7 separate regions of the Homo sapiens genome follow, and regions 1, 2, 3, 5, 6 and 7 are each linked to region 4. Evidence: fine-mapped expression QTL. A gene starts in region 4. Each other region holds a variant in brackets. All regions are shown on one strand. Distances are between the middles of the regions.

Region 1 (4,079 bases), 51 kb before region 4:
GATACGGCTCTTACAAACAGGGTATGGAACAAGTAGGTGGCAAAGAGGATATCAGCAGCCTCTTGTCACCCTGCCGGTCCCCAAGGAGTTCCAGGTCCACTCATCCAGTCAAGGGACAGACAGCAACTTGGTCGCTGAGTTCCAGCAGGGGTCAGCAATGGACTGGACTGAAGTGCATCCAGAGGCGGTGCTAGCTAGAGGCTTTCCTTCTGGGGTCATGTGTAGTCATGGCTTTTATCTTTAATGAAACAAAACAAAAACAACAAAAAGCACCAGGCTTTTATGGGCTAAAAAATACAGTTCCACAAGGATTGATTGAGCACTAAAATATGGCAGACACTGTTGTAGGCACTTGGGACATTGAAGTGAATAAAATAAAGATCCCTGCCCTTATGATTTTCTATTCCAGCAGAAAGAATATAGAAAATAAAAAATAAATCAGCATTAGATAGCAGAAGACATGGAATTAATGAAAAGTAGAGCAGACTGAGTGGGATCAACAGTGCTAAGTGAGAGTAGGGGTTAAGGTGAGGTCATAAACAGTGTGATCTGAATAGGCTTCATTGTGCAAATGAGACGTGAACAAAGACTTGAAGGAGTTGAGGAAGTTAGCCAGCAGATATCTGGAGGAAAAGTGTTCCAGGCAGAGGGCACAGCTAAAGAAGCAACCCTAGGTGATGAGGTCAAGAAACAGTAAAGGAACTAGCAGGACTGGAGCAGAGTTATGGTCAGAAGGAGGGGAAGGTGCCAGACCATGTGTGCCTTATATGTCACTGTAATGACTTTTCCTATGGGTAAACTAGAAAGCCATTGAGGATCTTGAACAGAAACATAGGATGATATAACTTGTGTTTCAAAGGATCATTCTGACTTCTATGTTTGAGGGTTTTAGCAGAGAGATCTGTTAGGAGGTAATTTCATTAATGTAGATCAGAGATGATGGTGGCTTGGACCACAGTGATGGTAGATTCTGATATATTTTAAAGGAAAAGCCAATAGATTTTCCTAAAGGATTGACCATGGGGAGTGAGAGACAGAGAAGAGTCACAGTGACTCAAAAGTCTTTTGCCTGAGCAGCTGGGAGGATGGAGTTTCCATCAACTAAGATGAGGAAGGCTAGAAGTGGGGCAGATTTGTAGTGGAAGAAAAAGCATTCTGTTTTGGACTGTCGAGTTTGAAATAAAAATTAGACATCCCTTGGAAATTTTGATGAGGCAGTAAAATAGATACATCTGGTGTTTTGGAAAGAAGTCTGGGCTAGAGAGAAAAATTTGGGAGTTATCAGCATATAGATGTTATTTAAAGCTGTAAGTCCAAATGAGATCAACAAGAGGGTGTAGAGGGTGAAGGGAAAAAAGGCTAAGACTGATCCCTGGGGCACTCCAAGGGAAGCAGGAGGAACCAGCCAAGGAGGCGAAGAAGGCATGACCAGTGAGGTAGGAGGAAAGCCGAGAGTGTGGTGTCTTCGAAGCCTAGTAAAGAAAGTGCACCCAAAAATGGAGTAGTCCACTTTGTGAAATGCTCATGCTATGTCAAGTAGGAGGAAGGCTGGGAATCTGACTGTTGGCTCTAGCCAGGAGGGAGTCATCAGCAGCCTTGAGCAGAGTAATTGTGATGGAGTGGCAGGAGCTAAAACCCCAGCTGCAGTGGGTTTAAGAAACCATTAGAGGACCAGGTGCGGTGGCTCACACCTGTAATCCCAGCACTTTGGGAGGCCAGGAGGGCGAATTACCTGAGGTCAGGAATTCAAAACCAGTCTGGCCAACGTGGTAAAACCCCTTCTCTACTAAAAATACAAAGTTGGGTGTGGTGGCGGGCACCTGTAATCCCAGCTACTCGGGAGGCTGAGGCAGGAGAATCGCTTGAACCCAGGAGGTGGAGGTTGCAGTGAGCTGAGATCGTGCCACTGCACTTCAGCCTGAGCGACAAGAGCAAAACTCTGTTAAAAAAAAAAAAAAAA[AAG/G]GTGTAAGAGGAAAGAAACTGTAGACCATGAGTACAGGGCACTATTCTGAGACATTTTCCTGCAAATGGGAGCAAAGAAATAGAGTAGAAGTTGGCAGGGAAAAACAGGGTCAAGAGAAATGATTGCTTTTACTCTGTCTTTTTTTTTAAGATGGGAAGGAAAGCAGCCTGTTTATTTGCTAATAAAAATGATCCAAGAGGGAGTAAAAATTATTAATGCAAGAGAAAGAGGGGGAGAATTGCAGGAACAATATCCTTAAGGCAGCAAGCGCAATGGATCTAATGCACAAGCAGAGGGATTGATTTTAGCTAGGAGCATGGACATTCCATCTGTGAAGCAGTCGGAGAGGCATAATATGAGATTAAAGACACAGGTAAGTGGGTGGATGCAGTGATGGGAGACTGTGGAAGTTCTTTCTTGATTGTGTAATATTTCTCAGTGAATTAGAAAATAAGGTCATCAACTGAGCTTGTGAATGAGACATGAACTAATTGGGGGTTTGAGGAGAAAGGAAAATGTGTGAGTCATTTAGGAGAGGGGGAGAGTAATGAACTATGTGTGATTCCCAGGCAGCATTAATAATTCACTTGACGCTAGCAATTGTGAATTTAATGTGAGATTAGTCAGTCTGTGTCTGTGCACGCTTATCAGCCTCATTCAGCTGTGTGGGTTTAGACATAGATTGGGTGGAGAAGTTGAATTACCCAAAGTTTTAGTTTGACCAAAAAGTGAGAGGGGGCAAGGGAATCAAAGTTATGTGAATGGGAGTACTTACAATAAGAGACCATGGTCTTTAAACTGGATATGGAGAGGAATGAGAACAGCAAGGTGGGGAAGAATAATGGAAAATAAATTGGTACAAATGGAATGGTGTGTGTGTTTTTTATGGAAGCCAGTTTATTGCTTCAGGAAATGGCTTAAAATGTTCTTTTTATGGCTCTAAAAATGTTCTTTTTGTCTTTGGCACATATTTGCCCTCTGTATTACCTGATGTAATTTTTGTAAATAAATATTGTATGTATTTTGAGTATAGGATGCCAAAGGTTTGTTGGGGTTAGACAGTAAACTGGAAAGATAGGAGAAAGTGATCAGACAATGGGAATCATAGCACTGAGATTATGCAGGGGTCACACCTATACATAATGATAAAATCTAAGCAATGGCCATGGAAGTGAATAGTTAAGGTGAGGTGGAGAAGATCCTTGTGGGAGAGGAGGTCAAGAATTGAGAGGTTGGTCAGGCGCGGTGGCTCATGCCTGTAATCCCAGCACTTTGGGAGGCCGAGGTGGGCGGATTGTGAAGTCAGGAGATTGAGACCATCCTGGCTAACATGGTGAAACCCCGTCTGTACTAAAAATACAAAAAATTAGCTGGGCATGGTGGCACGCACCTGTAATCCCGGCTACTCAGGAGGCTGAGGCAGGAAAATCACTTGAACCTGGGAGGCGGAGGTTGCAGTGGGCCGAGATTGTGCCACTGCACTCCAGCCTGGGCAACAGAGCAAGACTCCATCTCAAAAAAAAAAAAAAAAAGAATTGAGATGTCAGGGTCTTCTATGTGTATGAGACATTCACCAAGCTTAAGGCAGGGGTAGTAATGGCAAGAGTAAAGGTAAGCCAGGAGATAAAATTTTTAAGAAATACGGGGGAAGACAGACACGGTGGCTCATGCCTGTAATCCCAGAACTTTGGGAGGCTGAGGCGGGTGGATCATTGAGGTCAAGAGTTTGAGACCAGCCTGGCCAACATGATGAAACCCCATCTCTACTAAAAATATAAAAATTAAGCTGCGTATCATAGCACGCACCTGTAATCCCAGCTACTTAGGAGGCTGAGGCAGGAGAATCTCTTGAACCTGGGAGGTGGAGGTTGCTGTGAGCCAAGATCATGCTACTTACTGCACTCCAGCCTGGGTGAGAGCGAGACTTTGTCTCAAAAAAAAAAAAAAAAAAGAAAAGAAATATGGTGGAATGACCCACTGATAGTCTTAAAGTAAATCACTAATTGAATCTTACAATCGAAACATACAATTTCTACCTCAGTTGTTTAACTATTACACTGTAACAAAACAAAATATTATTACAAGGTAATAGTTGCCTAAAGGGTAAGAAGCACAA
Region 2 (4,076 bases), 120 kb after region 4:
AGAAAAGACTCCAGACTGCTATTTCATGTTCTTGTGCTCCTCGTTATTTTAATGCCTACTTATGTAGTGCTTGTGATTCACAGTAGCAGTATTTCTTTAGTAATTCAGAGCAGTACCCAAGATTTGTGAAGACTTTAGGAGCCACTGTTGGCTATTGTTGAGCACTTTTTTAAAGGTAGTATCAGATGACGACCTGAGCTGTGTCCTTTAGATTTGGTAGTAGAGCTATTGGAAGTCTTTGGGGTACTGTGACATGACTATTCTGTTTCCCCTGGACAGGTGTATGATGGATACTGATGACGAGGTACGAGACAGAGCTACCTTCTATCTGAATGTGCTGCAGCAGAGGCAGATGGCACTAAATGCCACATATATCTTTAATGGTCAGTGAAAGCCAAGGATGTACACTTTTGTTCCTCAAATGGTGTCTTGGAAGCATATTTTATGATTTGCATATGAGCTAACTTCACTAGGCAAATGCTTGGTTTTTGTCTTTGAGTGCACTTCCATTTCTAGAGAAACCTGTGTTTATAGGATATTTTCTAATTTGGTAATGATAATTCCTATGCAGCAATCTATAAGAATATAGATTGGGCCCTTACATTTTTTAGGAACGTTGCTCACTTATTCCTGGTTCTCCTTGAACTCCCTCTTGGATGGGTTTACATTTTTCCCGTTTTCTTATGCTATCATTGTTCCCATATAGCTAAGTTGCTTTCTTTTCTGGGAGGTACATACATTTTGTTGAAAATGTGTATGCTATGCTCCCATGTTTCCTTGAATGAAATAAGTCAGTTTATAAGTTTATAAGGTAATTTCAAGAATATCCTTTATTTTTATATTTAGGTTATAAAGCTTTTGGTTATATTTTTCTCTTCCTTCAGAAAGCTTAGATAAATATTACAAACCTGGGCCTATTTGGATTCGAGGATTGGCAAGAGGTTATAATGCTGAGATTTCTCTATGTTTCACAGGTTTGACGGTCTCTGTACCAGGGATGGAAAAAGCCTTACACCAGTACACGTTGGAGCCTTCAGAAAAACCGTTTGACATGAAATCAATTCCTCTTGCTATGGCTCCTGTCTTTGAACAGAAAGCAGGTTCACTCTATTCATTTTTCTGTGTATAAGTAGTTTTGCAAAACTAAAAAATATTAGCATATTTTCTCTAATACTCATTTAATTGTCACTCTTTTTTTTTTTTTTTTTTTTTGAGATAGAGTCTCACTCCCGTCGCACAGGCTGGAGCACAGTGGCGCGATCTCTAGTCACTGCAACCTCTACCTCCCGGGTTCAAGCGAGTCTCCTTCCTCAGCCTTCCGAGTAGCTGGGATTACAGGCATGCGCCACCACACCTGGCTAATTTTTCTATTTTTAGTAGAGACTGGATTTCACCATGTTGGCCAGGTTGGTCTTGAACTCCTGACCTCAGGTGATCCACCCACCTCGGCCTCCCACAGTGCTAGGATTACAGGCGGGAGCCACCGTGCTCAGCCGATTGTCACCCCTTCTAAATCTTTTAGATTTAAGACATATTTTTATTAGAGTTTAAAAAAAACTCCTGGTTTTTACATAAAAGCAGTAAGATGAAATGCACTCCAAAATGAAGGGTTTTTTTTAATGCAAAGCATTACAGTATCTGAAGTCAGTTGCCACTGTGCATCTCAGAGCAGTAATAGTGCTGTCGCCTCCTATTTTTATTTTCTGAAGTTGATAATCTCTAAGTTAATTGATTTTGTTATTGGAGGTTCGTCTTAAAAGAATTTATGGGCGACAATCATAAAAAATATTCCCAAAGAATATCTAAT[C/T]TTAAAACTTAAAAACAAAAACAAAAGAAGTCATAAATGTTTAGTGGTTAGAACACAAAACTGGGAAGAAACAATTTTATGCTTATTTTCAACATTTTCAGTTTTTCTGTTGATATAAGTAATTTTTCCTATTTTGATCATGAGAAGATTTTTAAAATAAATTGTTTTTCCTTTTCTGAGTAATTTTTGTACATTCCAGTCCATTTAAAGCAAACTCTATATTTTTAGGGCTTACTTTATGATTCCACAATATATGTTCACTAAATACATTTTAATTTGAGTGTCCCCCCACCAGAAGTGATAGATAACCTATAAGTATGATCTAGTAATAGCTCATTATATATCTGCTAGAAATGTCTGCTCTCCTCTCTTTCTGTCTGCATTGCTAGCTTGATAGTAGTGGGAGAAGTTCACTTACTTGCTCATATCTGTCTTTATAGAAATCACACTTGTGGCTACTAAGCCAGAGAAGTTGGCTCCTTCCAGGCAAGACATTTTCCAAGGTATGATGATTTGATGGTTAGACGTAATAATCTTTCCCCTAGGCATTGTAAATATAAAAAGTCTACCAGTCTTACTCAAATTGATCGGTTCTCAATATAGGAAATCTTCGTGTGGCTGAACACCATAGGGTATAGTTGCTGAGGCTACCTGGAGTCCATGAACTTTCCAGTTTGTAATTGCTAATTGGGAATGTTTTTCTTTTCTGTATCTCGTTGGTTAACAGGGAACTCATTGTAAAATAAGTATTTACTTTCTTTTTTTTTTTTTTTGCTTTTTGCTTTCATTAATATATAAGCTTACTTACTTGAAAGATGACTTCACTAAAACTTGGGGACATATTAGTTGAATGTTCAACTATTAGTAAGGCTATGGAAACTAAAGCATTTTTTTTTTTTGAGACAGAGTCTCGCTCTGTCACCCAGGCTGGAGTGCAGTGGCACAATACCGGCTCGCTGCAAGCTCTGCCTCCTAGGTTCACGCCATTCTCCTGCCTCAGCCTCCCGAGTAGCTGGGACTACAGGCGCCTGCCACCACGCCTGACTAATTTTTTTGTATTTTTAGTAGAGACGGGGTTTCACCATGTTAGCCAGGATGGTCTTAGCCAGGATGGTCTCGATCTCCTGACCTCGTGATCCGCCTGCCTCGGCCTCCCAAAGTGCTGGGATTACAGGCGTGAGCCACTGCTCCTGGCCAACTAAAGCATTTTTTAAGCATCCAGACTGAAGTCTTTCCCTGTCTTCTTCATAGCCTACGTTCTTTTTTCTTGATAGAACAATTGGCTGCCATTCCTGAGTTTCTGAATATAGGACCCTTGTTCAAGTCTTCTGAGCCTGTTCAACTTACAGAAGCAGAGACAGAATATTTTGTTCGATGTATCAAGCACATGTTTACCAATCACATCGTGTTCCAGGTAAGATAATGCCCTTGGCTGCTGTAGAGATTTAGTATAAACTGGTATGCTTTGAGACAAATATCCTTTACCTATAATTCTAGTTTCTATTATAGAGAATTAATTTGGCAGAATTTCTGGTTTTCTTGCTTAACACCAGAGCTATAGAGATCCCTTCATGTGATGGGTAACTTTTGATGGTTAAAATCTAAAGGACATAAAACTGAAATGTGTGATGAAGTTGGACAACATAAAGTATAACCAATTTTCTAAAATCAGCATTTAACATCAGGGTAGATTAAGTGGGCTATTCTGAGAACTTAGATTTGACAGCCATCAGACTTCTGCCATCTTGTTTGAGACAGCAGTCTCAGGAAAGAGAAAAAACTGATGAATAATATAAACAAAAGACCTCAAGAATAAGGCTCTCCCTGTTGCCAAAAGAAGAATCTTAGGAGGAGACCTACCCTGCTCTGTAGAGATAGAAGGTATAGTGGGTTCCAGAGCTGAGTAGTGGGTTATGAGTAGGAAGGATAACTTGTTATCCTTCACAGCTTTTCCATTTACTGACTTTTCAGTTTGACTGCACCAACACTCTCAATGACCAGCTGCTGGAAAAAGTGACAGTGCAGATGGAGCCATCAGATTCCTATGAAGTGCTGTCTTGTATCCCAGCCCCCAGCCTTCCTTATAACCAACCAGGAATATGTTACACTCTTGTTCGTTTGCCTGATGATGACCCTACAGCAGGTACTAACCCTCAGAAGGGAGGAGATACGTGATTCAGAATGCATTTCCTTGTGAGCTCTTCAACTCTTCAAATGCTCAGTTTAAGAATGTGATGCTTTTCTAGAATTTAATGATGAGTGTTTGTGT
Region 3 (4,079 bases), 170 kb after region 4:
GGCACAGATGCTATTGGTCCTTAATGTCCTGTGATTTTAGGAAATAGTTTGGATTTAGTTCAATTTATTCAGAAACCAAATGTGTTTAATTAGCTTCACTACTCTGGCAGAGTAAGGGTATGCTGGTTTAGTATCTTTATAAAATATATATAATGTATAGGTAAATCATAGTCTTAAATCATACCTAAAATACTGTATCATTTAAACCAATATCTATTTTAACAAAATGTTTATAACTAAAAACAGCTGATGAAACACTAAATCCAAAGGTATGACAAAGAGGACTCAGCTCTGTGTTGCTTAAAGAACTTTTAAAAGGCATGTGCCCATAACGTCATTCGAGGAGAGGGAAGGAGCCCCCCTTCTCCTCCTCCTTACTATAGAATTCCTGTTGGGGGTGGGCCAGAAATTAGCACTTCTAAATATTTCAGAGAAGTCCAAAGTGTTAAAAAAAAGTCTTTTATGCAAAAGAACGTCTTTCTGCATCAGTGAATAGTAATGCTCATCAGAATTTCCTAATAGCACAAAAAACAAAGCCAAGTCTATACATTTGATCAGATATCAAAGTAATGGGAGGTGGACTATTATGTCAACCTTAGTCAGAGCTCCTGCTGGCTTCTTCCTATACACTGTTCACCAATTTGAGTAAAGTGGACTTTGTGAGAGAATTATGTTTGATGGCCAGGACCTCTTTTGGGCATTTCTTCCTAAGTGGAATACACAACACATAAGGGAGTAGGGGAGGTAATACAGGGAAGCTACTCTTTCCAGCTCAGAAGGAGTTGATGAAGCCCATATATGCATTCAAGAAGCCCATGGGATCCTCTAGCTGTGGATAGTGGCTAATGTGGTCATCCAGAATCGACACTGTGGACCGCGGCAGCGTTTTCCTAGTGGAAGAGAACAGCACGCAGGTGAACTTGAGGCTGGAGCGGGAGGGATGTAAGCCAGTGGGAAGCCCCAGTAAATGACCCTGTGGACACACCACACTGGAAGGAGCCACCAAAGAGCTTATTCACCTTCTACTCTGAAATTGTATCTTAGGCAGATAAACTTGCCAATTCCATTTATACAAACTAGTTTTTAAATGTTCATAATCCAACAAACAACAACTTGAAAATATAACACTTTTGCAACAATTGTCAAAGCAAGATGACTTTCAGCTCCTTAGAGAAGGATGAAGCATCAAACAAGTGGATCACACAGCAACTCACTGCCCAAGCAGAGATAACCAAGGATCTTCCCTTAATCCCAGGAGGAGATGAGAGAGGGGGTATTTTATTTAAAATTATATGCAAGCTGTTTACTACTAGCTTGTATCCAGTAGGCCACAGGAAGGTATGGAACATTCTTATGTGACATAATCAAGATTTCATATTCTGATACCTTCCAAGTAAGTACCTAGAGAGAATAGCAACCAATGAGAAGGCACTTTTCCACAATGAGCTCTTCTCAATCTCTCCTTGCCATCTGCTCAGCCTAAACCAATGAATTGGCTTTACAATCAGACTAAAACAAACAAACACTTTGTAGGTATATCCACTTTCAACCTTTGACTCACATGAGAGCTTT[T/C]TGTACACCAAGGAATATGTAGCAGTCATGACAGTGAAAACAGACTATGTATAAATCAAGAGAACGTATAACTGAATGTCTTGATACTACAATTATGTTAGAATAAGATTCCTCAACTCAATCTTTTTATTGTTTCCTGGATGAACAGCCAGCGAGGTTAAAGACAATGGCTAGAGCCAATAGCCCTCAACAGGCAATTCTGTTTACCACTGTCAGGATGAGATACTAACAAAACATAGACTTCTCTCGGGGAGACTCACCTGTACAGCTCCAAAAACTCTGGATAGGGATTTACAGGATCCAATGGCCCATAGATAAAATGAACTAGAAAAGAGAAAAGGAATGAAATACTTAACAGCTCTCACATCTGTTCTACTCCCACCCTAAAATTAACTCCTCTCCGAAAAGAAATGTTTTCTTCTTCCTTTTTTTATTATAATAGGCAAGGTCTCTCTCTCCCTTGCTCAGGCTGGAGTGCAGTGGTGCAGTCATAGCTCACTGTAACCTCAAACTCGTTGGCCCAAGCGATCCTCCCACCTCAGTGTCCTCAGTAGCTGAGACTACATACAGGTGTGCAACACCACACTTGGCTAACTTTTAAATTATCTGTAGAGAAAAATTTTTCTCACTATGTTGCCCAGAGTGGTGCCAAACTCCTGGGCTCAACCAGTCCTCCCACCTCAGCCTCCCAAAAAGCTAGGATTACAGACGTGAGCATCCTCACCCAGCCCAAGAAAATATTTTCTATAAATAATTTTTTGTGTGATACAAAACCTAGCTTGTTTTATTAGGTAACCTCTAAAAAACTGCTAGGCACGTACCAGTTCATTCATTGGACACATCTCCTCCTACAGACAACCATTTGGTCCCTCATCCAGCTCTCCTGCACCCTGGACCAAATGGGATATGCCCAACTTTCAACATCCTCTAAGTCCAGGATACTATCATTCTTTAAGTCTCTCTTCAGTTATAACAGACCCTTGACATTTGAAATCAACCAATAATTTCCTGAGCACTAATCACTATGTGTGAAACACCATAATTTTTTTTTAAATCTGTAAGAATGAAAAGACAAATAAGCACAAACCACCTATAGCCTCTTGATTAGTAATCCAAACAGCCTTCTGTCCGAGCAATTCAGCATGTAATGTGGCAGTCACTGACAATGCACACCACAGAAATCAGTAATACCAACTACCTTTACAGTAATGTCTCAGCTTTTTATATACTTCACTCTACACACACACATCACTGTTCCAGATGTCATGAGTACAGTTGCCAGTAAAATAAAGGATACCCAGAAAATTTGAATTTCAGGTGAAAAATGATTTTTTTTTGGTGTAAGTAGGTCCCAAATATTGTACAACATATACTTAAATACTAAAAAAGCATTTGTTGTTTATCTAAAATTCAAATTTAACTGGGTATCTTATATTTTTATTTGCTAAATCTGGTAACCCTAATTGTATAAAGGAGTTGCGATTACTTTAACCCTATAGTCCTTCAGTTTCCTATCAATAATACAAAAATACTCACTGGGGATAGTTACAGAGGCAAGAGCTCCCACCCAGCGCCTTCTGAACTTCTTCCTCTGATTGATGTACTGTAAGAGACTGTAGGACAGGTAAGTCAGCATGTGCAGAACAAGAAACCTTTACTGTTACAGGGATTCAAGGGCATAACGAGCCACAAGGAACACAAGATACAATTTCTTAATCCAGAAGCAGTTTAGCATTCCTGGAAATGTCCCACTTAATTTATCCATTTCTGTTAACCTCTAGAGTTAACCACCATGTAGCTCTAGTAGTGATTATGCCTACTATCAATATAAGAATTAGTGGGTTTGTGTATTTATTAAGCAGGGAATGAGATCTAGGAAGGCTGACAGTTGGTTTGGATTTTATGTAACTAAAAAGCCCAGGTCTGAGGTTCCAATTTAGGCTCCACCACTACCTACCTCTCTGACTCAAACATATAACACAGATCTTTCAACTCGGTTTCCTCATTTGTTGGTTTGTTTTTTAAAAGACAGGGTCTCCCTATGTTACCTAGGCTGGAGTGCAGTGGCTAGTCACAGGTGCAATCATAGCTCACTACAGCTATAACTTCTGACCTCAAGAGATCCTCCCACCCCAGCCTCCCAAGTAGCTGGGAGTACAGGCATGTGCCAAAGGACCTGGCTAGCCTCCTCATTTTTAAAATAAGAGGATTGTAACACATGATCTTCTGTGTTGACATCTACTTCTTTTTTTTTTTCTTTTTTTTTTTTTGAGACGGAGTCTCACTCTGTGCCCAGGCTGAAGTGCAGTGGCATGATCTCAGTTCACTGCAACCTCCGCTTCCTGGGCTCAAGCAATTCTTGTGCCTCAGCCTCCTGAGTAGCTGGAATTACTGGCTAATTTTTGTATTTTTAGTAGACACGGGGTTTCATCATGTTGGCCAGGCTGGTCTCTAAACTCCTGACCTCATATGATTCGCCCACCTTGGCCTCCCAAAGTGCTCAAATT
Region 4 (4,079 bases):
AAAGGGCCAAAGGATAAGTCTGTGTGTCTTAGAGGTACAAAAGTCTCTGGGATTGGGGTAGGGAATGGGGTAGAAGGGGCTTGGAATAAGGTTGTATGGCAGAGGGTACAATGAGAATCCTCCTCACATATTATCATTTATTTAACAGTATTTCAAGGGTTCCTACTAAGTGTCTGACACTTACCAAGCACCAACAATATCACTTTCAATATGTGAAAGAGATGAAACAGATCATAAAAGGCCTTGACAGGCTGGGCGTGTCCGTAATCCTAGCAGTTTGGGAGGCTGGGGCAGGAGGATTGCTGGAGGCCAGGGGCTTGACACTAGCCTGGGCAACATAGTGAGATCCTGTCTCTACAAAAAATAATTTAAAAAAATTTAACAGGGTGTGGCGGCATGCACCTGTAGTCTGAGCTACTTGGGGGGCTTGAGGAAGGAGGATTGCTTGAACCTAGGAGTTCAAGGTTGCAGTTAGCTGTGATTATGCCATTGCACTCCAGCCTGGGTAACAGAGTGAGACCCTGTCTGAAAAACAAACAAACAACAATAACAAGAAATCGAAAATACCACAATGCCTTAAATATTATTTAAATAAAGGTTTGGGTTTTATCCAGTAGGCAGTTTGGACCCAATGAAGAATTTCAGGGCACTGAGTACACATTTGTGTATTAGATATATATAATTGGTGGGTCCTCAGACTTCACCAGCTCATGGTTTTAAGATAAGGTCCATTTCTCCTACTGGGTTTCTCTCCTCAAACAATTCCTGAGACTCCCTAAGGTATCCTTGCCTGTCCCACAAAGCCATTGCAGTGATTGCTCAACCCGTCTGCCAGCCATCCTCAGTCCAAATAGTCCTGATACCGAAGGCCTGGGGTCATATTATACCATCCCTTAACTGGCTTCTTCAGGCTTCTCTGCTCCTGCTATACCTATCTGCCACCACATCCCATCCCATTTCCACCTACTGATGCTCTTAACTCCGTAAATACTGCACAGCTAAAAACAACCTGTGGTATTAAACAAAACTTCATAGATATACAGAAAAGCTGAAGAACAGCAGAGAATGATTGATCTTGCTTTACAAGGGGCTAGTCTTAGGGTCAGCCCCAAATCTGAACTCAGGTCCTTCTACTTCTCAGCAGGTCTCCGGGGCATTACCCACCTTGAGAACCTCTGGGCCTATTATCTACACTGTCTCTGCCTAGGTTCCCAATACCCTTGGGCCAAGGAAGAGGAAGAGGATGTTTCCTTCCCCAAAGCCTGTTTATTTTCACCCCCAGAATAAATGAGTGCAGACTTCTATTTCCTTCAAAGAAAACTCCACCTACAAAGTATGACTTGACCTTTACAAGCCATATAAAGCAAACATAGTAGTTAATAGTACATTTAGTCAAGTCGGAGTTAAATCTTAAATGATACCATATGTAGGATATCAACAGTTCATCTTAAATCTGTATTTCAGGGAAAGAATTTCTCTAGGATGTAGAATGTAATCTAGGTTAGAATTTCTCTAATTTTGCAGGGGCACGATCCTGTTGAGTATAGACCCAATTTACATTTCTAAACAAGTTATGCCAGTGAAGCCAAAGGCAGACAAAGTTTCTTAGCTACACTCTTAGACAAGAGAACAGAAAGCCAGCATACACTCTGAGAAAAAGAGGAACATGAGTTAGGAATGAATGCACGTTAATTTAGTGAGTTTCTTAAGTGTCAATATGGTTTCAGATGGAATCATTGAAAGAAATAGGCTTGAACAAGGAAGACTCTAAACTGGCAATGAATTTTCCACTGGGTTTTGATGAAATGAAGGAATCCAAAAATTATAAAATAGGTTGGGAATGGTATTACACGGTCCAAAATCTACCCTCTAAAGACCAGCCTCTGGTCCCTCCAAGTGCGTCTCCTTTACATCTCACATTAAGTATCCTTCGAGTACTTCTGAAAAGCCACATTCACCAGGGTGCCTGTGCTTTGTCGTAGCTTCCAAGAAGTCAGCGAGTGAAAGGCCAATTTCCAAAGTGATTCGGGAACCACTGACACTCGCATCGCTCTTGGAAGACATGCCCACCAGAACCGCGCCCGGGGAGAGCGCCTTCCGCAACGGGAGGGCCCCGCAGTGGATTATCAAAAAGGCCACGGTCATCGGGTGAACACAGACCCCTCAGTCCTCCCGCCTCGCTCTCTTGAGACTGAGGGGTCCGCAGAAGTCGCCACCCAAATAAAACCACATTCCTGCTGCTGCGGGCGTGGGCTCCCGGGTCGCAAGCCGGGAGGGTCGAGCCGAAGTCTCCGGCGGGCCGCAAGAGGAGAAGGGGGCGTGGCTGCGTCCCGGGGGCCGAGGGCGGCCGGGGAGGGCGGGCCTTGGCCCCGAGTGAAGGCGCGGCGGCCCAACCGGCGTGAGAGCGCGGGGCCGGCCTTCCTGCAGCCTCTTCCGCTCGCCGGCTGCGGCGCCTGGGACGGTTGCGGTGGGTCTGGGCGCTGGGAAGTCGTCCAAGATGATTAAAAAATTCGACAAGAAGGACGAGGAGTCTGGTACGCGCGGGGCTTCCGAGGCCCACCCTCAGCCGCGGGACGCCCCTTCCCCCGCCCGCCGCCACCTGCTTTCAGGCCGGCGGGGCTGGGGGCGTGGGCGCCGCCGTGCCAGGGGGCCGGAGCTGGAGCCGGCCCCTCCCCTCCCCTCGCGGCTGCCCGGGGCCTGCCCGTAGCCCCTCCCCCGGGCGCCGGAGCCTCCCTTCGGGCCGCGCGCTCCCGCCCCGGCGCCCGCGCGCGCCCCGTTCCCGCCCCTCTTGCGGCGCAGCCCCTCCGAGCCGCCTCCTCCCCTGCGCGCGGGCCTCCGGCGGGGGCCGAGGGCGTGCGCGCGTCTCCGCGTCCAGGGGTGCTGGTAGGGTCGGACCCCTAGTGGGAGCACCCTGTTCCCGGGGCTGGGGTCGACGGCACAGGGTGTGTGTGGAGGAACGTTCAGGTGCCTGGTACCTTATCGTTTTCCTGGGGTCACCGGCTCTGTCCAGGTCCCCGGGGGCAAGACTGTCCCGTGGGACACAGCTCGTTGAATGCTCAGGTGTCCAGAAGTGACCTGCGTCTTGATGCCCGTCTTTGGTCCAGAGCAAATGGGGAAGATGCCAAGCATCCTCAAAAAGAAAAAAATTCTCAGTGTTTGGTAGCATCTCCCACAGTGTGAGAGGGGGTTGGGTTAGTCAACCTCCATGGCCTCTTGCACCTTTACGCCTGCATGATTCTCTGGGAAACTTCGTTTCTGCCTCTCCTTAAGTGTTAGAAACACATAAAATACTGCTTACCTAAGGAAATCAAAAGCACCCTACTACAATCTCATTAATCTTCGTTGTTGTGGAAATGACACATTTTTAACATTCATGGAAAAAGAGGGCAGGGAAAGAAGACACTCATTTTGGAGAGGGTTGCTGCGAAAGAGAAGTCTCAGCTCTTCGAGTATGGCAGTGACAGAGCCGGGATCAAAATGATTTCATTCAGTTCGTATGCGTATTAGCCATGATTATCACTGTGCCATCCAAGTGTTCACTTCCCAAGCATTCAGTACCCTTCTCTGGAAAGTATATAAGTTTGTGTAGAACAGCTGTTCAGGACATTTTTTTGTTTTGTTTTATAAATAGGTAGTGGCTCCAATCCTTTCCAGCATCTGGAGAAGAGTGCTGTTTTACAGGAGGTATGACTGGGAAGTATCTTGTGCCCTTTCTTTTCTATTCTGTTTTAGAGTGGTGGGCAGAGAATCCCTGGGCTGCTGTGATCACGACATGCAAAACAAGAAACGTAACAGAGTTTAGGGAATATAGATTTGAGGGAAAAGAAAGAGGGGTTACTTGTCACAGGAGAATTTGGAGCTTATAGAAATGCAAAGACATGAAGACTGTCACAGGTTGGGAATTTTAAATGTAAGAACAGGTGTTTAGTGCAAGGTTATTGAAATCAGTTATCTGTATTAATCTCATTGTATTAGTATGATATAGATAAGTATTGTGATCCTTATTTAACTGGTATAGCCCATAAAGTTGAAGTAGTCAACCTAAGGGAATGAGAAAGTATAGGATGGAAAATCAAGGC
Region 5 (4,079 bases), 66 kb before region 4:
AAAAACAAATCACAGACTTGGAAACCTCAATAACCAACAAACATATGGGGAAAAAATGCTTAACTTTGCTAGCAGTGAGGGAAATTCAAATAAGACAACAAGATACTGTTTTTTAAAATAATCAAATTGGCAGGAATAATAAAAATCTTAATCTAGAAAGTGTTGAAGATCATGTGAGGGAAACGTGAACTGTCACACACTTCTGATGGGTGTGCAAATTGAAGCATTTGGCAGTCTCTCGCAAAACTGAAAATGTGTGTGGAGCCCGGCAATTCCCCATCTAGGTAGATACATAGAGAAATTCTCACATATGTGCAAAGGAAACATGTACAAGTAGTACCAAAATATTGGCAGCAGTTTAATATTCATCAATAGGGGAATGAATAAACAGGACACATTTGTATGCATGGATCCACACTATAGCAATTAAAATGAATGAATTGGATCTATATTTATCAACACGAAGAGAAAAAATAAAAACATACCATGAATGAAAAAAATAAGTCCAAGAATAATATGCACAGCCTAATACCATGTTTGTACATTTAAAAAAATCATATAAACCAATATTCTGCATTTTATAGGTTCACATCCAGTTAAATTGTAAAACCCAGACTGGAAAGTTACATACCAAATTCATGTTAGTGTTTGCCTTTGGGGAAAAGGGTGGAGAATGGTATTGGGGGCAGTACAAGGGGACCTTCAATTTTATCAGAAATGTTGAATACTTAATAGATCTGAGGGAGATATAACAAAATGTTAACATATTCATTATATGAGACAGGTATATGGGTGCTTGTAATGTTCTCTCTGCATTTTAAATATCTTCACATTTTTTCTAAATAATAAAATTAAAACAGCTAGTAAATTATTCTATCTGATAGATTTTAATGTGTAGATTAACGAAGAGTTAATCGTCTAGAGGAACTTCAGAAAAATTAACTGTTTTGCAATGGAATCGCCTTAAAAATAATAACACTGACAATATTATTTAAAAACTGCTGAAATGAATAAAGTAGATTCTATAGGTGTCAACCTGGATAGCTGTCAAAATCATATTGAGGGAAAGAAGTTGCAAAATGATATGTATACTAGTGAACCATTTACTTAAAAATTTTAATAAATAAGCATGGAGATATACATATATTTACATGTATAATTAGGTAATACGGGTATCAAAACAAATGCAGATTAAATAGCCACTTTATAATACTAATTACCTAGAAAAGTGAAGAGGGAGAAAGGTGAATGGAACTGGGGAGGGAAACAAAGTGACATTCAACTCTATCTGTAATGTTTAATATAAATAAAAACATGAAACAACTATAACAAAAATTTCACATTTGATTACCCTAGGCAGTAAATACATGAACGTATGTTATTCTTGATACATACGTATTAATTTTCAAAAGAAAAAGTACTGAAGAACTACAAATAAAATGCACACAATTCACTCATATAAAAGCTTGTATACATCAAAAACTAAGATATGACTATTTTTAGAAATTATCCTGTTTGTTTTTCTATGTAGTTTTACATTTTTAAAAAGAAAAACGAGGGAAAAAATGAGAGCAATGAAGACACGTAAAAGAAACCGTACATGCATTTGATTATAAAAAAGGCAAACCTCCACAATCACAAAACACCATATGAGCATTCTATATCATGTGCTGCATTTCCTTACATTTAACTTTCGTCAAAAGCAAATTACAAGATAATGCCTAATTGGAAACGTGACTTTCTATTATTAAAATGGTGGGAGTCCATTTTAATGTGTTTATCTCGCCGCTAGACTATAATTTATATCTCAGCGTTTAAATTTGTTTGGATGCCAGTGACAGGTTAATGCAGTTTAAACATGCATTTTTCTTTCGTTGGCTGAATAGTTAAATCGTTACTCAAAGGATTTTAAGTTTCAATTTCAACCGGGAGAGGATTCTTTGCTTTTCCAAGGTTAAAACTGTTTCTGGTTCGAGATGCTATTAATTAATGGCTACGTAGCGGATCTATTTAGGGAACTGCTCCCGGCCCCGGGTTCACAGTTGACCTGCTCAATGAGAAAACTTTTTTTGCTACAGACTTGGGGATATTTGCAATTTAGTCTGAGAGCGGCGAACGGGGAGTGAAATGGAATTCGAGACCACTTCGCTAACAATCGCAATTATGAACCGAAAGACATGTCAGGTATTAGCAATTTTTTTCCTTAAAAAAAAAAAAAACTTTCTGGGACTCCGCGGGACACCCAGCTGGCGACGGACCAGCGGGCGGCGGGCTGCGGGGAGGGGGGGCGAGGCTGCTGCAACCCAGAAGTTCCGACTGGGGAGTTTCGCTCTGTTACCATTACCTGGCTCGCCGGCAGAAGAAAGAACGCGGAGACAAGATAATTTCTGAGGCTGTTAAACATGACTTAGCCGGGGGCCGCGCGTTCCGAGGGG[G/A]TGTCCTGCGGGCCGGGGCGGGTCTCTGCCGCCCCCGCGGGCTCCGGTGCGTCAGGGGCGCGTCAGGCGGGGCGGGCTCCGCGCGGGCGGCGGCGGCAGCGGCGGCTGCGGCGGCGGCGGCGGCAGCAGGCGGCAGGCGGCGAGCACCCGGCCTCCTGCTTCTCGCTCCGAGGCTGCGGGACGGACGCTCCCGGGAACTCCGTCGCCCGCGGCCGGCCGCGTTCGGACGGCGCTCGCCGGCGGCCGGGCGGTCCCAGCATGTCGGCCGCCGTGGCGTGCCTGGACTACTTCGCCGCCGAGTGCCTGGTGTCCATGTCCGCGGGCGCCGTGGTTCACCGCCGCCCGCCGGACCCCGAGGGCGCGGGTGGAGCCGCTGGCTCGGAGGTGGGTGCGGCGCCGCCGGAGTCCGCTCTGCCGGGTCCGGGGCCACCGGGGCCCGCGTCGGTCCCCCAGCTCCCGCAGGTCCCCGCCCCCAGCCCCGGCGCGGGCGGCGCCGCGCCCCACCTGCTGGCTGCAAGCGTCTGGGCGGACTTGCGCGGCAGCTCTGGCGAGGGCTCCTGGGAGAACTCGGGGGAAGCTCCACGCGCCTCGTCCGGCTTCTCCGACCCGATCCCGTGCTCCGTCCAGACCCCGTGCTCCGAGCTGGCTCCCGCCTCCGGCGCCGCGGCGGTCTGCGCTCCCGAGAGCTCCTCCGATGCGCCCGCCGTCCCAAGCGCGCCTGCTGCCCCGGGCGCACCAGCAGCCTCTGGTGGGTTCTCTGGAGGGGCCCTAGGGGCAGGCCCCGCCCCCGCCGCGGATCAGGCGCCCCGGAGGAGGTCTGTCACACCTGCTGCCAAGCGCCACCAATGCCCCTTCCCGGGCTGCACCAAAGCCTATTACAAGTCGTCGCACCTCAAGTCCCACCAGCGCACCCACACGGGTGAGCGCCCTTTCTCCTGCGACTGGCTCGACTGCGACAAGAAGTTTACGCGTTCCGACGAGCTGGCCCGCCACTACAGGACGCACACGGGCGAGAAGCGCTTCTCCTGCCCCCTCTGCCCCAAGCAGTTCTCCCGGAGCGACCACCTGACCAAGCATGCTCGCCGCCACCCAACCTATCATCCAGATATGATCGAGTACCGGGGACGTCGTCGAACTCCCCGCATCGACCCGCCACTCACCAGCGAGGTGGAAAGCTCCGCCTCCGGCTCCGGTCCCGGCCCGGCGCCCAGCTTCACCACCTGCCTGTAGGACAGTCATTGCTGTCAGTCTTACCCTCAAGGATGATCCCCCAGGCCGTTGTCCCTGCTTTCTCTCTGCCCATCCTTCTTTCCCAGAGTCATTACACCAAGGCACAGACTGGTTCCTCTGCTCTGAGGGTGGGTCCAGGCAGACATGTGGACTCTGGGGAGGTACTGGGGGCCGGAAAATAGCGGGAATTCTTGCAACGTGTATATCATCCTAAAAGTGGGGGTTGCCTCAAGACAGCCCCCAGGAACTGATAAGAAGGGATGAACTCCCGTACTCTCCAGAGTACTGAAGATTCTCCCCTCCCTGGAACCAGGGATGTGAAACTGGAATTCTCAGATGCCTGAGGAGCTCCCAGTCTCAAAGGACTCTGGTGTCTCACCCATCCACCAGGGCGGACCTTGGAGAGGGTGTCAG
Region 6 (4,079 bases), 57 kb after region 4:
AATAGAAATGCTTTAATATTTTTTGGTGCACTGTTGTTCTGTTGTGATTGTTTTTTATTTTTTGCATTACATTGGTAGCAGCGTGAGACTTGACCATGCTAGTGCTAGCAATAAAACTCTTTTTTTCATCTGAATATTGCTCTCAGTCTTTTTACTCATCTTTATCTGCCACCACCTTCCCAGTGCTTTTTCCCAGTTAAAGTTAAAAAGAACTGTATTTCCAGAGGATTTTATGTTGAGGGCTCACTATAGTAGTACACTACACATTTAATTCTTTATGTATCTCAGATAATCAGGGATTACGTTTGATTTCTAGGACTCTCTGGGATCTGTATATAATATGTGCCCTTCACATAGAGGAATCTTCATAACTTCAAAAGCAGGCTCCATCTCCATATAGGAATTTCTTTATGACTTTCCTGATGGGTTCAGCCTCTGCTTGTGTATTTCTTCCAAACTGAGATTCTCCATTTTGAGACAGTTTATTTCATTGTTGAACAGTTATTCTTCTTTATATATAATCTTAAATGTTCTTTCTTAAAGCTTCAACTTCGTTGTTTGGGTTCTGCCCTTTGGGATATTATTACTATATTATCATCCTTTTAGTGCATTCTGAATATTTGCACAGAAACAAATATAAGATTGGTTTTTGAAAATTATTTTGAAGCATAAGAGTAATTTTGCATAAGCATGTTTTTCCTTAACAATTTTTTCTTTTTGAATGTTATTAGGGAACAATGTTGCAAGCCATTGAAAGATACATGAAGCAGGCCATTGTGGATAAAGTTTCCAGTGTATCCAGTTCAGCACTGGTATCTTCCCTGGTAAGTGAACAAGCAGCTTCCTAGTTCTTAAGCATGGTACAGTTTTGAGTTGCGAAAACAAAGTATCACTATGATTGTCTCACAAATGAAACAGTTAAAAATATGTATACACCTCTATTACTTTATCCAAGTGTGTTTTATCTAGAGCAGGGGTCCCCACCCCAGGGCTTCAGACCAGTACTGGTCTGTGACCTGTCAGGAACTGGGCTGCACAGCAGGTGGTGAGTGGCAGGCAAGCGAGCATTGCTGCCTGAGCTCCGCCTCCTGCCAGACCAGCAGCAGTGTGAGATTCTCATAGGAGCTCGAACCCTATTGTGAGCTGCGCATGCAGGGATCTAGGTTGCCGGCCTCATATGAGAATCTAATGCCTAATGATCTGAGGTGGAACAGTTTCATCCAAAAACTATCCCTCTGCCCTCTGTCCATGGGAAAATTGTCTTCCATAAAACCAATCCCTGGTGCCAAAAAGGTTGGAGATTGCTGATCTATAGGATCATTGAGCAATTAAAAACATAAAATGTTCGTATGTTTGAAAGGTTTTGGAAATCTGAAAGTTATGTTGTACACATAATAAAAGAGGGGTAAGTGTGGGGTATGGGACAGGAAAGAAACCTAGGACCCTTTTCTTTCATTTAAAATCTTCTTTATGACCTGCCTTTATGACTTCTACTACTTGTCTCTTTGTCCTCTGCTTTTTCTGGTGCCCTTTGTCTACGTGTATCCTTCAATCCAAAGTTTCCTGTCCCACTTCTGAATTTCCTCCCAGGAAGTGGTCTTTTTTTTAGTAATACATTTTTCTTTCCGTTTTTCAGCAGAACACAATTTATACATTAAAACCTATCACATTGCATTTGATTAACGTCAGTTACCTATATGTGAATGTGTAAGACATCTAAATACAAGAGTTCCTGATTCTGGAATATAATTGGCTGAGTTTTATAGCAGAGAATATACTAGTACTCTCTTTCTTCCAGGGGAGTTTCCTGGAAGTAAAGCTTGTTATGATAACGTTATTTAAGCACCGTTCTGTTGACTGTCCATCCCTATCCTGTTCTTCCTCTTTCATTACTTCCTTTTACACACCTCTCCCAGCTTACATATACTCACCTTTGTAACAGGTATGGGAGAAAATACTTCTGGTTTATCAGTTGCTCCAGGAGTAAAGACACAAAATAGACTTATAAGAGCTACATAGTTTTCTTCCTCTTGGGAAATGTCTGTGATTTTCAAAGAAAACTAACTCATGTTTCTAAGCTTCTAGTGACCAAGCATTATTTATTCTCATTTTTTTTTTTCTGTATTTAGCACATGATGAAGATAAGCTATGATGTGGTTAAGCGCTGGATCAATGAAGCCCAAGAAGCTGCATCAAGTGATAATATTATGGTCCAGGTATTGTCATTGAATCACATTAGCTTGTCTCAGGATCAGCATTCTTTAAACCTGTATTGTAGGGGCAGTGTAT[C/T]GATTCCCTAGATAAACATTAACTAAAGGCAAATTAAGCAGCTACTAGTACGTATTCTGAAGTAGGAATCTCACTAATTATGATTACTGCCATTTGAATACTGCCCTTCAGGTGTTTCATAGAAGCTAGATGACCCTTTGTAGGAATATTTGGGAAAGATTGTTATATTCAGTAGTAGATTGAGATGCTCGTGGCAGTCTTTTATTTGAAAAATAATTTGTGTAAAAAGATAATTCCAAGTTCTGAGGCCTTGATTATAGGCATTATAAAAATCATACGGAGCAGCTTTTACTTTATGAAACTTTGAAACCATTTTGTCAAAAAGAGCTCTTTTGATATTTATTAGGTTATTCTTAAGAGGAATAAGATTAAATTCTTCACTGGAAATTGTGTGTAAAGTACCCCATTTTATTTGAGAGGGCGTTTATGCCCTCTTGATGTTTATAACTTCTATGGTAACATATTCAGTTATTAGGAAACAGAGTAGTCATTTTTCCCTTGGGAAACACTCTCATTCTCCTGACTCTGATCATGTGTTTTTATACAAAGTGTCAAGATGATGACACTCTTGTAGCCTGCTTTAGGAGATTAATCCTTTAATTACTAAGATGGCCACAGATGATGTAAAGCCACTCGTAGAGACAGATAGCACCAGTAAAGCCCTGGACCCGAGAGCGTGTGTACTGAGGATGTGTGAGCCAGTGTTGAGCCTGCTAGAGCCATCTTCAGGTTGTATGTCACCTCCTTTATGCCTGCCAGTCTGAATTGACAGCTTCTAGGGGTAAATTAGAAACGTTTAATCTTTTCAGTCTTGCCTGTGTTTAGTTCAGTGTGAAAAAAATATTTGTGTACATGTGACCTGGGTATTTTAAAGAAATCTTTAATCTAGTTCCGTGTAATTCTATTTTTGTGTAAATATTTTGACATCTTTCTAATCCATGTGCTACCTTCTTTTTCATGTTCTTTAGTACCATGCATTGGGAGTCCTGTATCACCTTAGAAAGAATGATCGACTTGCTGTTTCCAAGATGTTGAATAAGTTTACTAAATCTGGTCTCAAGTCACAGTTTGCTTACTGCATGCTGATCCGAATTGCCAGTCGCTTACTAAAAGAAACTGAGGATGGGTAAGTGTCTTCACCTAAACCTGGGTTATTTTCCATTTGCGAAGTTAATATACCTTAGAGTTTATTTCCTTTTTGAATTTTTTTTGGGGCAGTGCTAACTTTACAGATGAGTTCAATGTTTTTCAATTTTTTAAAAAAATTATGGAATTTCAAGTCACACTTTTTTTAACCTTACTGTATGCTCTTGTATATGTACTTAATTATTAATAGCACATTAACAAACTGATATTGAACAAAAAATATATGCATTGATCATAAGATATATAGATAATTAAATATGAAAGTTGGCAGGGACATTAAGAATTATCCTATCCCTTTTATTTTTATAAAAGAGAATGTTGAAGTACTGCATTTAGTGATTTGCCTAAGATCATTCCACAAGTCTGAGGCACATAAGATGTGACCAAATATACTTTAGCAGTCTTTCGAAGGCTAGGGAAGGGCAGGAATGAGAAATCTTTTGAGGTATAGTAAGCTGGGCATGGATCTAGGGAGCAAAGAAGACCCCTTCCCCAGCCTGAAGGCTTATGGCTGAGCTCTAAAACAAAGATTTCTTATGTGGCCTGGCAAACTGAGGTGTAACACAGAGAAAGATCTCTAGAATCTGCCACTACTACTAATGCCCTGCTGAAAGGGGAAACCTGATCTGTTCCTCAGATCATTT
Region 7 (4,000 bases), 320 kb after region 4:
ACAACAGTGATGACCACTGAGGGGACAGATGCCTTGAGAGTGGAGTCTGAGGGTGCGGGAGCTCAGGTTAAACCCTGATCCTGCCACCAACTCCATCAAATTACTAACATCTCTGTGCCTCAGTTTCCCCATTGTAAAATGGAGGTCATGTTATCACATACTTTATCACATACTTTAAAATGTTCTCATGAGAGCCAGGCGCAGTGGCTGACACCTGTAATCCCAGCACTTTGGGATGCCAAGGCAGATGGATCACTTGAGGCCTCCGGAGTTCAAGACTGGCCTGGCCAACATGGCAAAACCCTGTCTCTACTAAAAATACAAAAATCAGCCAGGCGTGGTGGCGCGCGCCTGTAAGCCCAGCTACTTGGGAAACTGAGGCAGGAGAATTGCTTGAACCCAGGAGGCGGAGGTTGCAGTTAGGGGCGATTGTGCCACTGCACTCCAGCCTGGGCGACAGAGCAAGACTCCATCACACAAACACACACACACACACACACACACCAATGTTCTCATGAGGATTAGAAGGGTTAATACATGCTAAATGCTTAGACTTTTGCCAGGCATGTAGTAAATGCTAGTGAATGTTAGCTATGATGATGAGGAGGAGTGTGACAATGATAAGGAGGGTGATAATAACTTTGGGGTGACTCCAGGGCTCTGTGATGGAGCATTACAAGGCATGACCAGGAAGTCTGGGTTTCTCCAGAGGTAGGATAGCTTCTGTAGGACTTGGAGGGCAGAAAGCCCCCATTAATGGTCATCTGGGGGAGTCAGTCAGCACCTGACTTTCATGGGGCCCAACAGAGGGGCCTGGGTCCTCTTCTTCTGTCCCTACCCCCATGATGCAGGCAGCCTCCATCTCTCTTAGGGTCTTGCCCATCACTGCTGCTGTCTTCCCTGGCTTCTCCTGCAATCTTTCCTGTTGTCTTCTTCTCCTCTCTGGAGCTGCCACTCACCCACAGACCAGCCAACAGCATTTCTACCTTTAAAACTCTGCTATTCAAGCCAGGCATGGTGGTGCACGCCTGCAGTCCCAGCCATTCGGGAGGCTGAGGCAGGAGGATCTCTTGAGCCCAGGCGTTCAAGGCTGCAGTACGCTATGACTGTGCCTGTGAATAGCCACTTTACTCCACCCTGGGCAATATAACAAAACCCCATCTTAAAAAACAAAAACAAACAAACAAAAAAACCTCTCGTGGTTCACGCCTATGATCCCTGCACTTTGGGAGGCTGAGGCAGGTGGATCACTTGAGGCCAGGAGTTTGGGACCAGCCTGGCCAACATGGTGAAACCCTGTCTCTACTTTAAAAAAAAAATTAATAATAATAATACAAAAATTGGCCAGGGGTGGTGGTGTGTGCCTGTAATCCAAGCTACTCGGGAGGCTGAGGCATGAGAATTGCTTGAGCCTGGGAGGTGGAGGCTGCAGTGAGCCGAGATCATGCCACTGTACTCCAGCCTGGGTGAGGGAGTGAGACCCTGTCTCAAAAAGAAAACAAATAAACAAATAAAAACTGTACTCTTCAGCTAGCAAGATAATAATTTAAAGAAGTAAAGAATTAAATTATATAAGCAATGAGAAAAAGGTAAATGTCAACAAGAGTGAAATGGGAAAGAAAGAGGAAGTTGGAGAAGTGGGGAAGAAGGGTACAATTTAAAATAAGATGAGCAGTCTGGCGTGGTGGCTCACACCTGTAATTTCAGCACTTTGGGAGCTCGAGGTTGGCGGGTTGCCTGAGCCCAGGAGTTCAAGAGCAGCCTGGGCAACATAATCAGACCCCATCTCTACAAAAAATACAAAAATTAGCTGGGTATGGTGACATGGGCCTGTAGTCCCAGGGCCTGTACTTAGAAGGCTGAGGCGAGAGGATGGAGTGAGCCTGGGAGTTCGAGGCTGCAGTGAGCCATGATCGTGCCACTGCACTTAAGCCTAGACAACAGAGTGAGAT[C/A]TTGTCTCAAAATAAATAAATACAATAAAATGAAAAGCCTTATGACCATTGCAAGGGCTTTGGCTTCTACTCCAAATTAGTTGGGTTTTAAGCAGAGGAACAACATGCTTGAATTTGCAATAGTTTTAAAGGACTCTTCTGGCTGCTGTTTTGAGATTAGGTAATAAGGAATCAAGGTGGAGAATGGGGGAGAGCAGTTAGAAAGCAACTGGAAGAACCCAGGTGAGGGACGAGATGGCGCATGGGCCCTCGGGGGTGGTGTGGGATGTGCTAAGATCCATTCTGAAGGCAGCGATAAATCTGTTGTTGATGGGGAGTTTGAGGAAGGGGTCAAGAATGGCTCCCAGCTTCTGGTCTGAGTGACTGGAAGGATGGTGTTGCCATTTCCTGAGATAAAGAGGGCTGTGGAGGCACCGATGAAGGGCCAGGGGAGCTTGGTCTGGACCTGGAAAGTTGGAGATGCCCATTGCACCCCCAGGTGGAAACACTGAGTAGGCGGTTGGATCCAGGAGAGGAGGTGCTGGCTGGAGACAGAACACAGAAGTCCTGGATGCCAGGGGAAGAGACAGGCTCCAGGAAGGAGAGAGTGACCAGTTGTGCTGTTGGAAGAGGAACATTGAGAGTCGGCCATCGGGTTGGATCTGGAAGTTGCGTGTGACATTGTCGAGGGAAGCTTTGGTGAAGTGAGGGGGTGGGCAGCCTGCTGGCGGACAGGGATGGAGATGACAGGGAGAGTCAGTATTTTCAGGAGTTTCAGTCTATGGGGAAGCATAAAAATGGGGTGATGGCTGGAGGGGAGAGGGAAGGGATCAAGAGAGGGTTTTTTTAAATGGGAGAAATAACTGTATTTGCATGGTGATGAGAGTGATCCACTAGGGCGAGGGAAATTGGCAACGCAGTATTTACACTCAATTGTATTCTGCTCTAGATGGTCAGAGTATGGGTGATTTTTGTTTTCTCCTTGTGCTTTCCACTATTTTCCAAATTATCTAACATGAATATTTATTAATTTTGTAATCAGAAAAAAAGCCATTAAAAGCCACAGAGCTGATTGCTCAAGTGAAGTTTTTCCATGGTGACTCATCCTAGGGAAAAAATAAAAAAAAAAACCAAAGGGCTGAAAAGAACGAGGTGAAGAAAAATTAAATGCAAATAGAGCTCGCTCGGAATCAGATAATTTCTTGCCTGGCCCACTGCAATTTCCTCACCACCCTCCTGCCTGTCAGTCTCTCCCTGGTCCTGTCCCCAACTCAACACTGTCACTGTCAGGGTGGTGTTTCTGAAATGCAAATCTGATCATGTGAAAGCACCTCCCATGACTCCCCCCTAGTTGTCAGGATAAAATCCTGACCTCGTCACATGGTGGAGGGCACTCTTTGTGATGGGGTCTGGCTTCATCACCAATCGGGGTGGGGGCCCCCCTTCCTCTGGCCAGCCCCCCCTCACCTGCTCTTCAGCGCACCGTAATTACCGCCTTCTCAGAAGCACGGCGTGCAGTGCCTCTTGTATGCGCTCCCATAGCAACCGCCCTCACTCCATCAGTCGCTCATCCACTCCATTGTAACCACCGATTTACCCCCCTCCATCCCCGGCCCCCGCGACCCTCCAGCTGTCCTGGATACAGGGCCAAGTTTTTTATCTCTGTGTTTCCAGCCCCTTGCCCGATGCACAGCACACAGTAGGGCTCTCTGTGTCTGGGAGTGGAATGAATGGCCCTGCCTCATGTTTCTCAAGCATCCCTCTGATCACAGGGCAGAGGGAGGGAGAGATTCCAAAATCTCCCCTGCCTCTGGCCAAAGTAAAAACCAGCATCGAGGTTTTCCAGCCTGGTCCTAGCCACCAAACACGACCACTCCTCTTTCCTTTCCTCCTCCTAATGAATGTCTATTAGTTCCACTGACATTTATCAAGCCTCAACGAAGCAGCAGGTCCTATGGTAGGTACTGGGGTAGGAAGATTGACACGGAGCGTGGAGCTGAACCTTGGCTGAGGGGAGGGGGCCAGAGGAACAAAGACCCACATGTGAATAAGGTTGTGCCTGTCCTGAA

What was found.
Region 1: its variant is fine-mapped to the expression of COPG2 in whole blood (INTERVAL, PIP above 0.99).
Region 2: its variant is fine-mapped to the expression of COPG2 in whole blood (INTERVAL, PIP above 0.99).
Region 3: its variant is fine-mapped to the expression of COPG2 in whole blood (TOPMed, PIP above 0.99).
Region 5: its variant is fine-mapped to the expression of COPG2 in whole blood (TOPMed, PIP above 0.99).
Region 6: its variant is fine-mapped to the expression of COPG2 in whole blood (TOPMed, PIP above 0.99).
Region 7: its variant is fine-mapped to the expression of COPG2 in whole blood (INTERVAL, PIP above 0.99).

What each region holds. Positions count from the first base shown.
Region 1 is chr7:130,718,174-130,722,252 of GRCh38, reverse strand. No RefSeq gene overlaps it. Among named protein-coding and RNA genes, the nearest start is that of KLF14, 14 kb to the left of the region's middle. The variant AAG/G (reference allele first, on the strand shown) is at 1,961.
Region 2 is chr7:130,547,548-130,551,623 of GRCh38, reverse strand. COPG2 (coat protein complex I subunit gamma 2) reads left to right here. Exons shown (of 24, transcript NM_012133.6): 16 at 280-383; 17 at 975-1,100; 18 at 2,248-2,310; 19 at 3,082-3,221; 20 at 3,779-3,950. Among named protein-coding and RNA genes, the nearest start is that of COPG2IT1, 6.1 kb to the right of the region's middle. The variant C/T (reference allele first, on the strand shown) is at 1,808.
Region 3 is chr7:130,501,750-130,505,828 of GRCh38, reverse strand. MEST (mesoderm specific transcript) reads right to left here. Exons shown (of 12, transcript NM_002402.4): 10 at 3,109-3,185; 11 at 1,833-1,896; 12 at 1-890. The coding sequence ends at 773. Among named protein-coding and RNA genes, the nearest start is that of MIR335, 7.7 kb to the right of the region's middle. RefSeq lists an enhancer at 579-1,778. The variant T/C (reference allele first, on the strand shown) is at 1,573.
Region 4 is chr7:130,667,087-130,671,165 of GRCh38, reverse strand. COPG2 (coat protein complex I subunit gamma 2) reads left to right here and starts at 2,418. Exons shown (of 24, transcript NM_012133.6): 1 at 2,418-2,534; 2 at 3,632-3,684. The coding sequence starts at 2,498. TSGA13 (testis specific 13) reads left to right here. Exons shown (of 8, transcript NM_052933.4): 8 at 1,983-2,523. The coding sequence ends at 2,152. RefSeq lists silencers at 2,046-2,155, 2,246-2,835 and an enhancer at 3,106-3,215.
Region 5 is chr7:130,732,648-130,736,726 of GRCh38, reverse strand. KLF14 (KLF transcription factor 14) reads left to right here and starts at 2,520. Exons shown (of 1, transcript NM_138693.4): 1 at 2,520-4,079. The coding sequence starts at 2,694. The coding sequence ends at 3,665. It overlaps LOC105375508 (a long non-coding RNA gene), which reads right to left and starts at 2,463. Exons shown (of 4, transcript XR_927978.3): 1 at 2,345-2,463. RefSeq lists silencers at 2,707-2,786, 2,857-3,016 and an enhancer at 2,912-3,449. The variant G/A (reference allele first, on the strand shown) is at 2,436.
Region 6 is chr7:130,610,289-130,614,367 of GRCh38, reverse strand. It overlaps COPG2 (coat protein complex I subunit gamma 2), which reads left to right. Exons shown (of 24, transcript NM_012133.6): 7 at 732-824; 8 at 2,130-2,216; 9 at 3,258-3,415. Among named protein-coding and RNA genes, the nearest start is that of COPG2, 56 kb to the left of the region's middle. The variant C/T (reference allele first, on the strand shown) is at 2,290.
Region 7 is chr7:130,351,901-130,355,900 of GRCh38, reverse strand. The region is part of intron 5 of CPA5 (carboxypeptidase A5); the gene reads right to left. Among named protein-coding and RNA genes, the nearest start is that of CPA5, 9.1 kb to the right of the region's middle. RefSeq lists an enhancer at 3,007-3,653. The variant C/A (reference allele first, on the strand shown) is at 1,953.